Homo sapiens: one gene and its partner. The protein of the gene in region 1 interacts with the protein of each later gene in a pairwise test. Each region holds a gene or a part of one and is shown on either strand. Other genes may lie near its edges. The genes, in order: CELF4 and LYST.

What was found.
Region 2: the proteins of CELF4 (region 1) and LYST interact in a two-hybrid assay, tested with the Homo sapiens proteins (one study listed by BioGRID).

The regions. Positions count from the first base shown.
Region 1 is NC_000018.10:37,242,381-37,247,995, reverse strand, and holds the end of CELF4 (CUGBP Elav-like family member 4), read left to right. Parts: intron 1-725; coding exon of another isoform or gene 726-779; exon of another isoform or gene 780-2,798; coding exon of another isoform or gene 2,799-2,825; 3' UTR 2,826-4,956; downstream 4,957-5,615. UniProt on the Homo sapiens protein: RNA-binding protein implicated in the regulation of pre-mRNA alternative splicing. Mediates exon inclusion and/or exclusion in pre-mRNA that are subject to tissue-specific and developmentally regulated alternative splicing.
Region 2 is NC_000001.11:235,863,800-235,871,806, forward strand, and holds the start of LYST (lysosomal-trafficking regulator), read right to left. Parts: upstream 3,108-8,007; 5' UTR 3,044-3,107; exon of another isoform or gene 1,257-3,043; intron 1-1,256. UniProt on the Homo sapiens protein: Adapter protein that regulates and/or fission of intracellular vesicles such as lysosomes. Might regulate trafficking of effectors involved in exocytosis.

The DNA of each region.
Region 1 (5,615 bases):
GCCTCTGACCTACCCAGCTGACCAGGGCCACCTTGACAGACATCCCCTGCTGGCCCACAGGCTGTAGTCACAGAAAGCTGAGGAGGGAGGGAGCGCCACCCCTGGGGGAGAGAAAGAATCAAGGGTGATGAAAAGCAGAGCGCCTGCTCCCTGAGATTGCTTGCTGGCCAAGGTGGTTTGAGGGGCTGTTTTATTTTTTTTCTGGCCCCCTTGCCAAACCGCCCATGCCCCCCTCCCCAACGCATGATGGATGCCCTTAGTGGCCCTGTGTGAGGTTCTGCTTCTGTTCACAGTGTATCATGTGTCTGCATAAACAACCGTGTGTGTGTATGTGTGTATGTGTGTGCGTGCGTGTGTGTGTGCGTGTGTGTGTGTTGATGTGCCCATGTTTGTCTGCTGGCTTCCTCCATCCTTTGAGTTCTTTTCAGTTCTCTTATGATTTGACTGCTGTTCTCTCATCAGAGCTTCTAGATTGATGCTGTGGTCTGGTGCTGTATAAATATATTTTCTTTTTAATTTTGTTTTAACTTCTTCCTTGCCCTCCTTCACCCAAATCCCAGCCCTCCCTGCCCTCCCACACTCCCCAACCCCACCTGCCCTGCCCCACCTCTTCCTTCCCCCACCCACACTCTCTTGTCCTCTCTCTCTCTCTCTCTACATATATAAATATATATATAAATCTTTTCTTCTTTTGTCATTCAATCAAATTCCAACAACCCAACCAGGGCCAGTCAAATCCACCACAGTCTCGCGCTGAGCTAGGAATAAAGTTCACGTAATCACATGAGAGTGGAGAAAAGTCCCCCATCCGTAAGTTCAAATCAACTCAAAGTTCACAGTGTGACATGATGGCGTCATGTAACAAGGCTAAGAATCGGTTGCATGACAATTGCCGTCAAGTTTCGTGGAGGTGCTGTGATTGGAGCGTTTTTCTTGGATGTTGTATCAGTTGATGATTGGCCAGTCATGATCACACGTGCATTTTCTTGACTTTTGTGCTGCCACAATCTTTTTTGCTGTGCTCATTTTCGTTTCGTTCTTGGTGCTTGCAGTGGTTTTACTTTCTGTTGTTTGGTTTTTCTTGTTCAGCGTTTTTTTATGCTTCTCTAGATGTCACATAGAGAAAAAAACAAAACAAAAGAACAAAAAATAGTCAAAATAAAGATGAATTCCTGAATTATCAAACATGGGATCATTTACCTGTGCAAACCATTATTTTTTTCTTAAAAATAAGGAAAACATCTTAAAAATATCTATGCGTGGTTGATTTACTTGCACTTGAAAATATTGTGATTTTATTTTTTTCTAGAAATTTGGGGGCCTTTTTCAATTGACACTTTCCTAGGTCTGGTCTTTTTCCAGTTAGGCTATTTTCAATCTCACTTCAAAGGGAAAAAAAACAAAAACAAAAAAACAAAAACAAAATATCTACAGTAACAGAATGATAAAAAAATTCTAAACCAAAAAACTAGAGTACAAAGCCAGAGGCCTCTGCAAGAGAGCCCGGTAACAATTGTAAGGTTTGTATTGTAACCACTTCTGCTAAATTAAATGTGGGGAGGGGAGGCTGGGGACTGGGGGCTCGGGAGGGTTTTTTTTGGTTGGTTTGGAAGAAACAGTACTAACAAAAGCAAAATGCACCTTTTTGTTTACAACTGAAAAAGGGTCCTTGACAAGTGTTTTTTAATTTTATTATTATTTTATTTGGTGTTGTAATTGTTTAGACTGCTGTGTACGGTTTGCTGTTTGTTGAATCAACAGTGTGAAAAACCTGCCAGCATGGATTGATATACGCATGACGTTGTCCCCTCAAGTGGGGGCTTTGCAGTTCTAACTTTCTTGATGTAACCAGTCACCCCCATGTATAAGTGGAAGCTGCTTGCTAGAATGGAGATGAGTCTCATTTGTTAATTCACAATGATTAAGCATTCGCCTTCTGATTCTAGTCAGATCATGATTTTTTTAAAGCAAAACAAAACACCAAAAAGCCACCATTCAAAACAAAATCAAGCACTGTCTGAGTTAATTTATTTAAGTTTGATAATTAAATCTCTTCTGACCTTTTTTAGGTTTTCCCATCCACTCCCTTGAAGTTCTGAATTCCTCTAAATTCCCTGGCATGTATGAGAAAAGTATTATGTGTGTGTATGTGTGTATATATGCATATACATACACACATATCCATGTATATCCACATATGTGCAGGTGAATATATTCTACACATATATCCAGATATACATATATATACACAGCCTCGCAAATAGTTACTGACCCCGGGAAAGAAGTGGTTGGCTGGAAGCTGGGCAAGGATTCTACAAAATTTGAGTCACGGATGTGTCTTCCTTCTTTCCCTTGAGCTGGGAGGAGTGGGCTGGGCTGCTAGATTTTTCCTATCTTGTTTGCTAGGCTTCTGTATACATATTGTATCTGGGCTAGATCCCTCAGAGACAAGTTTAATTATGAATTCATATCCCGCAGTCCCAAATTCTCCCCTTAGATGTAGCTACCCCCAATCCAGAATGCTAAAGTAACCCAAATCAAGAACCTTCTCCCAACAACGAAACCTCAGCTACAACCATCACCACTAGACCTCCCAGTGGTTTCTACTCTGAATAGAAGAGTATATTTCTTTTTAATGTATCATGATCATGACTAATTCTCATACTGGTCTCTCTTCCTTCCCTCCCACCATCCCCTAGAGCTCCCATCCTAGCCCCTGAGGCAGGTTCCTATTGGTGTTTGGATGCTGTTTGTGTTTTCCCTCTTGGCTTAATCAGCCCTGATTTTCTTCATTTTAGGGCAGGATGCTGAACGGGCTACATTAAAAAACAAACCTCTCTCTATATATATTTATAAATGAGAACTGTTGGATGACACCTTTGACATATCAGCCAATATCAATCAAGCTGAAGACTCCAGACACTGTCTGTGTGACTGTAACATTTCTTCAAGGAAAGTATAGCGTCTATGGAGTTCAGAGGGCACGTGTTTGGGGGAAAATATATATGACATGAAGAAGAAGATGAAGAAAAATGAGAAAAAAACACACAAAAGGCAACTTTAAAACAAAATATCACGAGCAGACGGGGAGGCTGAAGGGCTGGGAGCTGGGAGGAGACGCTGCTTACCGATCCCGGGGCTTTTCCAGCCCACGGGCGCCTGACGCAGGCTGGGGCAAGTGGTGCGTGGGGCCTGGTCCCCAAGGGGCGGCTGAGAGGCCGCCACTGAGCATCTCTATCTGTCATTCCTTTAGCTATTTAGGGACCAAAGGACCAAACTTTTTATTGCAGATGTGTAGCTCTATGTCAAATAGAGGGGGAATGGAGGACCCCCTCCTTCCTGCCTCATGGCTGTTCTTGAAACAGCTTAGAGCGATTCTATGAAAAAATGTAATAAAAAATTAAAAAAAAAACAAAAAACAAAAAAAACAACAAAAAAAGGAAAAATAACGCTTCAATGCTTTTAAAACAGCAAGATAATAGTTCTTTGATACTTTGAGAGGCGCTTTGATGACCCTCATCCAAGTCTATGACACTTTCCTATGGTTTTCTGTATTCTATGTCTGGATGGAGCTGTTAAAAGATGAACAAATTGGTGGATATTTGGGGAAAGCAACACAAATCTTAAAACTCACCCGTGAAGTGTGAGAAAACAAGGAGGGGAACAAATGGGACTTACCAAGCAAGGTCATTGTTGTGAAAAGTCTGTAAATGCTTCTAACTCTTCCCCCTCTTAAAATCATAATAGTTGTACAGAATTTTAAAAAGGAAAAGTTTAAAATACCTATATAATAGAAGAAAAATTAGAGGAAAGCAAAAAATAAAAAAAAAAAATAAAAAAGGAAAAAAAAAACCTATAGAAGTTAGCATTACTGCTAAAATCCCAGATGTTGTAGGACTGTACTTTTGTAGAGTTTAGACAGAGCATCAATCCCTTCTCCCCGCGAGTGCAGTCGGATGCCGTTGTCCCCAAGGGCCAGGCCGAACTCGCCCCACACCTGCGGGCGCCTGGCTGCCGACGCCGGTGGAGGCCACGCCGTCGGTCGGGAACGGTCGCGTCGCCCGGGTCGCCGCCGCCGCCGCCGCCGTCATCCTCGCCTCTCGCTTCCCTCTGGGAGCTGCGCGCGCTTCACTCACCTTCCGCTTCACTCGCCTTCCACGCTTGCTCCAGAGACTTTCCGGGCAAGGGAGAACTGGGAACTTTCATCTTAAAACAACTAGACAACACACACACACACAAAACCTTAAAAAAGAGAGAGAAAAATAAACAATCTTTGAAGAATTTCTGAAACTGTTTACAAGGAATTTTGAAAAACAGGGATGTTTAAATGATGCCGGCTCTGTTTTTCTGTAAATAAATTTGCATATTTTGTAGGACTTTTAATTGTAATGATAGAGAAAAAAACAAGGAAAACTATTTAATGAAAGCACGATATTTATCTTTGGTAAATGACTTTAGAGCAGTTAAAGACATTGCTTAAAAAACTCAGAATCAGAAAAAACACTGAATTATTTAAGAACACATATATTTTAAAGTATAACATATTTATTATAATTTATTTGCACCCTTGGGAAGATTGCTTTGGCATTCTGCCTTGATTCCTTCTCATTGATGTCCAGGTCATCTGGAGGCCGGGGGTTCTCAGACCTACCAGTTTCCCTTTAGAAGAACAAATTTCCAGTTCCTCTAGGGCCTCCTGCCTTTCCTTTCTTTCTGTCAATTTTGTTGTTGTTGTTGTTTTTCATTTTCTTTTTTTCTCTTGACTCCTCCTTTTAGGATGTCCAGATGTAAAAAAAAAAAAAAAAAAAAGAAAAAAAGAAAAAAAAAAGAAAACAGCTGCAGTTCAGTACAACTGCTCTTTTCACACTCAACTCCCTAAAACTCCTTGTAACCTTCTGTAACTATTGGATGACGCTTTCTCCAGCTTAGCCCTAAATAAAGCACAGTTTAAAAAAATATTTCTTCATTGGTCTGTGCCTCTCGGACTCTGGCCAGCTGTGCCTCACAGCCCCAAGGCTTGCCCACTGGAAGTAGCTTTGGTCCTCTTTATGGAATCTGCCACACAGGCCCTCGTTCTGAGCCTCAGCATGTGAGGCTCTTCTGGGAGGTGATGGGAACAATAAAAGGAGGTCCTGTTCCACTCTAGGAAGAATCTCTCTGGACTGGTGTGTGTCTCTGAAAGTCCCCACTGCAAATTCATTCTTCTGGGTTCCTGGCAGAGGTGGCCACAGTGTCCAAGCAGAACAGAAAGGAGGCTACCTAGGCCACCCGACCTGAAGGCCGAGCAAGTGTTGGGTTGGGGGGGGAAGTTATGTGACACCTTAGGGAAGGAGGCAGTGGAGGGAAGAGGCCACAATAAAGGAAGAAGGATGAGGATGCAACTCCAAATTTACCAGCAAGCATCTTGCTCTTGGCCCCACACCTCCCGCTGCTTTGGCAGTTTGCAGGGATGGAGAAAACAGGATTCTGGGCCCTCAGTCAGGGTCCTGGTGGGGGCAAGGATGTAGAAAGAAGAGTAGGGGCCCTCCCCTGGGGCGTTTCCTGGCATGCTGCCTGTCCTACACTTAGATACGAGCTGGAGAGAGGTGTCCAGACCCTGAATGCCAGGGTGGGAG
Region 2 (8,007 bases), on another chromosome or scaffold:
GTTTACTACTAATAATCTCAGCTTTGACAAAAATTCTTTGCTTGGCCAAACTTACTCAGGCTTTTGAATTTTCTGTGAGGCCCATCTGTGCACTTCCTTGTAAAATCCAGTATTAGCAAAGAACCCTGCTAAGTCTGTTTAGCATAACATCCTGGATATCTAATCATCCTAAATATCTGATCAGGTTCCTCATCCTCCACCATTCCCCAGGTAATGTCTGATCGCCCTGGCCTGTCTTCAGCAAGAATCCCGTTAGGTCGGCTTAGCCAGAATCCCCCTTATCCCTGATGTTTCCTTTTAGCAATTTTCCATCCACGATCCCCACACTGCTGCTTGGCTATAAATTCCCATTTTCTCATGCTGTATTCGGAGTTGAGCCCAGTCTCCCTCCCCTACTGCAGGGCCCCACTGCAGAGGTCTCTATACCTATTGAGATGGTTCTGAATAAAGCCTTACTTACCATTCTTAAACAAGTATCATTGAATATTTTTTTCTTTAAAAACGTGAATGTCTAATTTTATTGTCTTCTAACCAACTCCCACCCTTCTCCCCACCAAACCTACTCCTCTCGTAAACCTAATCTCAGTAAACAAGTACCCCATCTTTCTACTTGTTCGGAACTAAATTTTGGTGTCTTTTACATCTCTACCCTCAATTTATCCTGAAATCAATGACCTCTCACCACCTCCACCAATTCCACTCTGGTCCAAGCTACATTATCTCTGGCCTGGATTAGGGCAACAGTTCCGGATTGGTATCCCAGCTTCTGCTCCTGCTCAACCCTTCCCCTACAACAAAGTCTATTCTCCATCCAGCGCCCAGAATGATCATTTTTAAAAGGCAAGCCTGGGGCCGAGCGCAGTGGCTCACGCCTACAATCGCAGAATGTTGACACGCCAAGGTGGATGGATCGCTTGAGCCCAGGAGTTTGAGACCAGCCTGGGCAACAATGGCGAAACCCCATCTTTACAAAAAATTAGCCAAGCATGGTGGGTGATGTGTGCCTGAAGTCCCAATTACTTCAGAGGCTGAGGTGAGAGGATCACCTGAGCCTGGGAAGTCGAGGCTGCAGTAGGTTGTGATCATGCCACTGCACTCCAGCCTGGGAGACAAAGTGAGATCCTGACTCAAAACTAAAAATAAAAGGTAAGGTTCTTTACTCAAAGAGTGGACTCCCCTTTCCACTGAGAGTAGAAACTCAAGTCCTTAAAAGGGCCTACAAGGCCTTATACAGTCTAATCTCCCACCACACTCACCTCTTTGACTTTATTTCTACTCCTCTTTGCTTTTTCCACCACAGCCAAATCAGCCTCTCTGCTGTCCTCAAACAAGCCCAGCACACAGGGCTTCTGCAAGCCCTTCTGCCTTCCTCTCTGCTAGCACATCCTTCCCTCAGAGAGGTACATGGATTACCCCTCACTTACTTCTGGTCTTGGCTCAAATGATATCTTTTCTAGGAAGCTTTCCCTGGCTGCCTCTAGTTAAAATTGCAAACCTCTCCCGGTTCCCTGCCCTCCCTCTTCCCTGCCCTCCCTCTTCCGTGCTTTTTCTCTGTAGTACTTAACACCATCTGACACAGCACATATTTTATTTGTTTATTATCTGAGGTCCCCACTAGAATATAAGCTCCATGAAGGAGCAGATATTTATGTTTTCTTAGAAAAGTATCTGACACGCAGTAGGTGCTCAATAAATATTTACTAAATACATATATATAATTATATAGTTTGTGAAGTATTTTTATGCAAATTACAGCAATTCATTTTTCCTTATGCCCTCTCTTCTTCAAATTCTCCAATCTTTGTAGTAACAATATGGATGACAGCAAAGAGCTATCAGAAAAAGAGTTGTTGGCCACTTAACAAAGCTCTTTAAAACAGATACCCCATATTAATCAACTACATCTATAAATTGAAAGCTTAAAGTCAACATCTTTATTAGCATAGATGAATCTAGGCGTGGAATTTTAAAATAATAGCGCAGAAGAGCCAAGAATCATCAGGAAGAAAAGTCTAATTCAGTTTGTCCTATCAATCTGTTAAACAAACAATAGGAAAATGCAACCTGCATTTGATCTTCAAGGAAACACTGGCCCAAATTCAACACGAACGCATTCAACACAAGATTCGACTCCCTTAAAATTTTCTATCTGCTTAAAACAAACCCCATTAACTATCAAGTGCCGTCGCTGGGTGTGTATGGTCTGCCGAGCGGATCGGGGATGTTTTGCTATGTTTTGTTTAACCAGATAAGAATTAGCGTTAAGGAAACGTTTCTTAAAGCCTCTGTATCCCCTGGACCATTAAACAACCCCTTCGTTGGGCTTTACACTGTGGTACCGGGGTCTTCTCGGGTAATTTCCCAGCTTATTTAACTCATCAGAAGCGAAGGGGCATCTCAGTCAGGCTCCAGTGATACCGGAGACAGACGGCAGATGTCTCAGGGGATCCCCTGGAAAGAGAGGCTCTCGCCCAGTCAAAGGGTGTCACGGACAGGAGGAAAGAGCGGACCGAGGCGCACGGTGTAGGTGACAGGTGGGCGAGCGCCGCAGGGCAACAGCGCGGGGAGTGACCGGCTGGGTGGTGGCGCGGAAACCGTCAACTCCCATCGTCAACCTGACAGCTTGGGCCCAGCTGGGCTGAGTAGTGCAGCGGCACAGGATCAAAAAATAAAATAAAGGTAGCAACACACCGCCGTCAGCCTGCTCGACCTCGCCCCCCGCGCGCTGCGAAATAAAGTTAGTGCCCAGTGGCCGCTGCAATGGCCCAGAGGGGCCCAGCCGAGCTCCCGCCCGCGGCCCGGCGGCTGTCAAAGGCGGCCCGGCGCCGCGAGAAGTCCCAGAGCCCAGAAGCCAGAGAGGACGCCCCGAGCTGGCGCGTCAGGCCGAGTGCCCTCGCGCCCTCGCGCCCTCAGCCCGGCGGTCCCGGCCCTCAACCCAGGCTGACAGCCACCAGCCCCAAACCGCCTCCCCTCCAGGCCACGCAGAGGGGCCGGGACCCGGAACCTTCTGCCGGCAGCGTCGGCGCCCGGCGGCCGCCTTTACCTGGTTTGTGGCAGCTGCGGCCGCCGCGCACTCCCCCTCTCCCGGAGAACCCCGAGCCGACGCCGCTGCCGCCGCCGCCGCGCACTCCCCACCCCCGCCCGCCCAGGTAACCCAGGAAACCGAGAACACCACCCCCTCCCTCCCCTCGTCCGGACCCAGACCCGCTCGTCTGCGCGTGCGCCCTTGGCTCCGCCTCGCGCGTGTAAGCCCCGCCTCCTCTGGGAGGGCAGCGCCGGCGTCGCAGGCGTGACGCGTGGAACTGCCGAGCCAATAGGGAAGGCAGGGGGGCGGGCCGACCCGCGGGGCTGCAGCCGGGGCCCGGTCTGGGTTTCTCAGCGGTCGGGGGTCGTACCCTGGGTCCGCACCTCCTCCCAGGGCTCTGCGTAGTGGGCTGCGTCAGACCCTGGGGAGTGCGAGCACCGTTTGAGAAGCACCAAACACAAGCGCATCGTCCGCCTCTTCCATTCAACACAGACTGTCAACCTGTCCCATTGTGTAGGTCTAGAGGATGAAGATAGAAGAAATAACGGGAAGGAGTCAGGAGAGGGAGAAAGGGTTACCCACAAGGCACCCCTAGCCTTCCTCTGGGACCTGGAAAAAGCCATATTGTAATGGTTACCGTCGGCTTCTTTCAAGAAACAAAAAGAGCTTTGCAAAGCCACTGCAGAAGTAATTCAGTGCAGTGGTGTATTTTCCAACCGACTCCTGTTCAAACACGGTTTGTATACAGTGCGCACTGTCAGTGTCATATGCCCTAATAGACCAGTCCCTCCAGAGGGTGGGAGCTGTAGGTAAAATCCAGGATGTTTTGGCTGCATCCCCGGCTCTGGGCCCAGCACGCTGCTGGCAGACTGCTGCGGTAGGCAGTTTGGCATTTCAAGGGCCACCCTCCTCACCTCCTAGTCACTGAGACAGCAACGCCAGAGGTACTGGGAAAAAGCCTGAACTGTAATCGTTCGGTAGTTTTCAAGTTCTGCCAAACAATACAAACTATTAATAAGCAGATAATCTACAAATTGACAGGAATTGCTGTAGAATCAACAACTCCCATAATTTTTTGCACAGGAATTATGAAATAGAAATAATTCAGGATATTATGTCCCAAGCCTATATACCAAATGTTACTCCCAATTCCTCAAACTCCCATCTAACCCAATGACAAGCAAAGTGCGTTAAGTTGCCCACTGATGTGGTTTAGAGGGTGCTCTTGGGGAAAATTCCCCACTTTAAAATATGTCTTCTCTGACGTCTGATGTTTAACCATTAGCAGTTCATATCTTTAGGCGAAGATTGCCCACTTCCTCTGGCAGGTAGTCTTTTATTTTTATTTTTTATCTTTTTTTTTTTGAGACAGATTCTCGCTCTGTCGCCCAGGCTGGAGGGCAGTGGCCGGATATCGGCTCACTGAACCCTAACAAGTGCAGGAAATAAATGTCTCAGGGAACTTATCACTCATTTAAGCAGTATATAATGAGCACCTACAATGCGCTAAGTATTGTGCTAGGTGCATGGGCCTGAACTGAAACAAAAAGAGGAAGCCAAACTTAACCTGTTTCGTCATTTTACCTAAAGCTGTGTCTACTCTTATTTATACATCAACTTTCACCCACTAATCTTAAAAACACCCCCCTTTTTTAATGGACAAAAGAAGTCAAAGAAATATTAAGTAACAAGCCAGTTTCTGTTAACCTTGAGTAGAAAATAATAGATTATCATGATTTCATTAAAGCAAAGAAAATGAGACAGACTTTAGATGATAATGGTATACAATTGGCCCTCAAAGTATTATTTGTTTGTAAAAGGCACAAAGTAATGCCATTTGTGACTATTATTTTTTTCGGTACCAGTGTTTTTTATTTTATTTTATTTTCAAGATGCAGCTTCACTCTTTTTCCCTGACTGGAGTGCAGTGGCACAGTCTCGGCTCACTGCAACCTCCGCCTCCCGGGTTCAAGTGATTCTCCTGCCTCAGCCTCCCAAGTAGCTGGGATTACAGGAATGTGCTACCATGCCCGGCTAATTTTGTATTTTTAGTAGAGACAGAGTTTCATCATGTTGGTCAGGCTGGTCTCGAACTCCTGACCTCAGGTGATCCACCCACCTCTACCTCCCAAAGTGCTGGGATTACAGGCATGAGACACCGCTCCTGGCCTCGGTTCCAGTATTTTAACTAAGCTACTGCAGTATGTATTTTATTCAATAGTATCTTAGAACATCGATACTAAATATACATATCAAATAAAACTTAGTTTAAAAGATTTCCTAGGAACACACACAAAATGTGTAGTGAAGAACATGAAAAAGAAGAAAAAAGTAAAGTAATAGGTATATAGAAGAAAGCTCTACTTGGCCGGGCGCAGTGGCTCACGCCTGTAATCCCAGCACTTTGGGAGGCCGAGGCGGGCAGATCACGAGGTCAGGAGATGGAGACCATCCTGGCTAACACGGTGAAACCCCGTCTCTACTAAAAATACAAAAAATTAGCCGGGCGCGGTGGCGGACGCCTGTAGTCTCAGCTAATCGAGAGGCTGAGGCAGGAGAATAGCGTGAACCCGGGAGGCGGAGCTTGCAGTGAGCTGAGATAGCGCCACTACAGTCTGGCCCGGGTGAAAGAGCGAGACTCCGTCTCAAAAAAAAAAATAATAATTAAAAAAGCTCTACTTACGCATGTATCACATGCTGGAAAACTTTTTAAGCAGGAAAGTCTTCAGCTAATTTGACTCCAGAATTATAATCTTCAATGAGATTGTAACATCCCAGCTTAAAACAACACAGTCAACGTAAATGTGCATAATTTCACATTTAATTATTCTCCAAAACACCTTTAAAAATTATTTGTGACTAAATGGATATATAAATCAAATCATGTCACATCTCTGCTCAAAAATCTGCATTGGCTCTCCGCTTCTCTCAGATAAAAGCCAAAGTCCTTACAATTGGCCTACAGAGCTCTAACACCATCTGGCTCCTCAAAACTTCGTCTCTTTCTACTCTCCCATCACTACCTACATACCTGCTTCTTTACTGTTTACCAAACATGCCAGATACAGTCCTGCTTTAAGGGCTTTGCACTGACTGGCCGGCCCCTCTGCTTGAAATTTGTTTTCTCCACATGGCTGCAGTTGTTAACTCCTTTATCTCCTCCACGTCTTTGCTCAAATTTCACCTCTCAATGAGGTCTACCCTTAATACTGCCCTTAAACTAGGCAAGAGGGGCCTCTGCCCTGGACCCCACACATGAATGGACCTCATCTCACAAATGTTCCCTAAAACAATAGTATTAAAAAACATGTATGTTCTCTGTCCCTTCTTGGGGGGTGTGGGGAGGTGGGTGGCATTGGTGAGAGTTGACACAGTTGTTAAATCAAGTTTAGCCTAAAGCTGCCTCCTTGCATATTTTAAGTTCAGCCTAAAGGTTTTTCTGTACATCATGAGCTATAACAAATGAAGGTGTAAACAGGCCATAGCCCACACCTGTGTCAATCCCTGAGTTTTGGCCAATCAAATGTAGCCAACTGTTTGAACTGTGTTCTAATAAAGCAAACGCTGAGCTGCAACCAACCCAGTTGTTTCTGTACCTCACTTCCATTTTCTGTATGTCACTTTCCTTTTGCTGTCCATAAATCTCCCACCGTGTGGCTGCGCGGGAGTCTCTGAGCCTACCTTGGCTCAGAAGGCTGCCTGATTCACGAATTGTTTTGTGCTCAATTAAACTTTAAATTTAATTTGGCTGAAGTGTTTCTTTTATCACAGTGTAACCTGTAACTCTAAACATCATCTCTTTCATAGCACCCATCAGCTTCTAACATACTACATAATTTGTCTATTTCTTATGTTTATTTTCATTGTCACCCCTGTTTAGACTATGGGCTCCACAAGGGCCACAATCTTTGTTCTATTTCTGATGTATCCCAAGGACCAGAACAGTGCCTGGCACTTAGTAGGCACTCAGTAAATATTTGGATAAATAGTTAAATTAAGAAAATTTTGTTGAAAATTCAAATAAATATCCAAACAGTAAGTTGACCATAATTTTGGAGCTGGACAATCTTAATGCCTACTGCAATGCATGGGAACAGAAATGGATTTGTGAAGTGGTAGAGGAATACAAGACTGCGATTTCAGCAATAGTAAGAAGGTCAGAATTATACAGATGAATAAAATTATGCATTTGACTAAAGACCTGCATCAATTTAATTTTGAGTGTCACTTTAATTTTGAAGTGCTTTACCTTATTAGGATGCATATACATCTTTTACAATTGTGCGTCTTGGTAGCCACCTTGAAACTTTATTGAAGAGGTCAATTCATAATTAATGTCTTCATTAAGTTGTTACCAACATCCATTTCATTTTGCAAAAGTTATCAGATTTGGTTTTAGTATGATTCTTTCATGTAATTTTCTCTACTAAATCACCAATAGCATTTGAAATCCCCAAAAGTATTGTCAGAGGCGTCCTAACTAGAGCGATTCCATCTTGAATAAAGGCCGGATAAAAGCAAACCTGCTGTGTTACATTCCCGAGGGGTTGGGCACTGTTGGTCACAAGACATTTATGGTTGAGGGAATGAGTTAATGATGCTAATAACTAATTAAAGACCCAGAATTTATGGAAATGTCCTAGTACTTTAAGAACAAAAAGCATTCTTAGTTTAAGACTAGGTTTTGCTTTAAAGATCATATAATATACTCATTAATTCTTGCTGAAATCAATAGTAACATAGGAAAATAACAATACTAATAGCATGTCACAAGCTGATCACAAGTCTTTGTAATAAAGTACACTATTCTTAACAACCTATAGAAGCAAGCACTATGTTTAAGGTAGTGAGTTCTTCCTTTTGCTTTCTAAGGACACCCTACTCTGTAATTGAGTAGTCTCTAATAAACTATCTTAACTTCACTATACTCTGCAGCTCGCCCTGAATTCTTTCCTGTGCAAGATCCAAGAATCTGCTCTCAG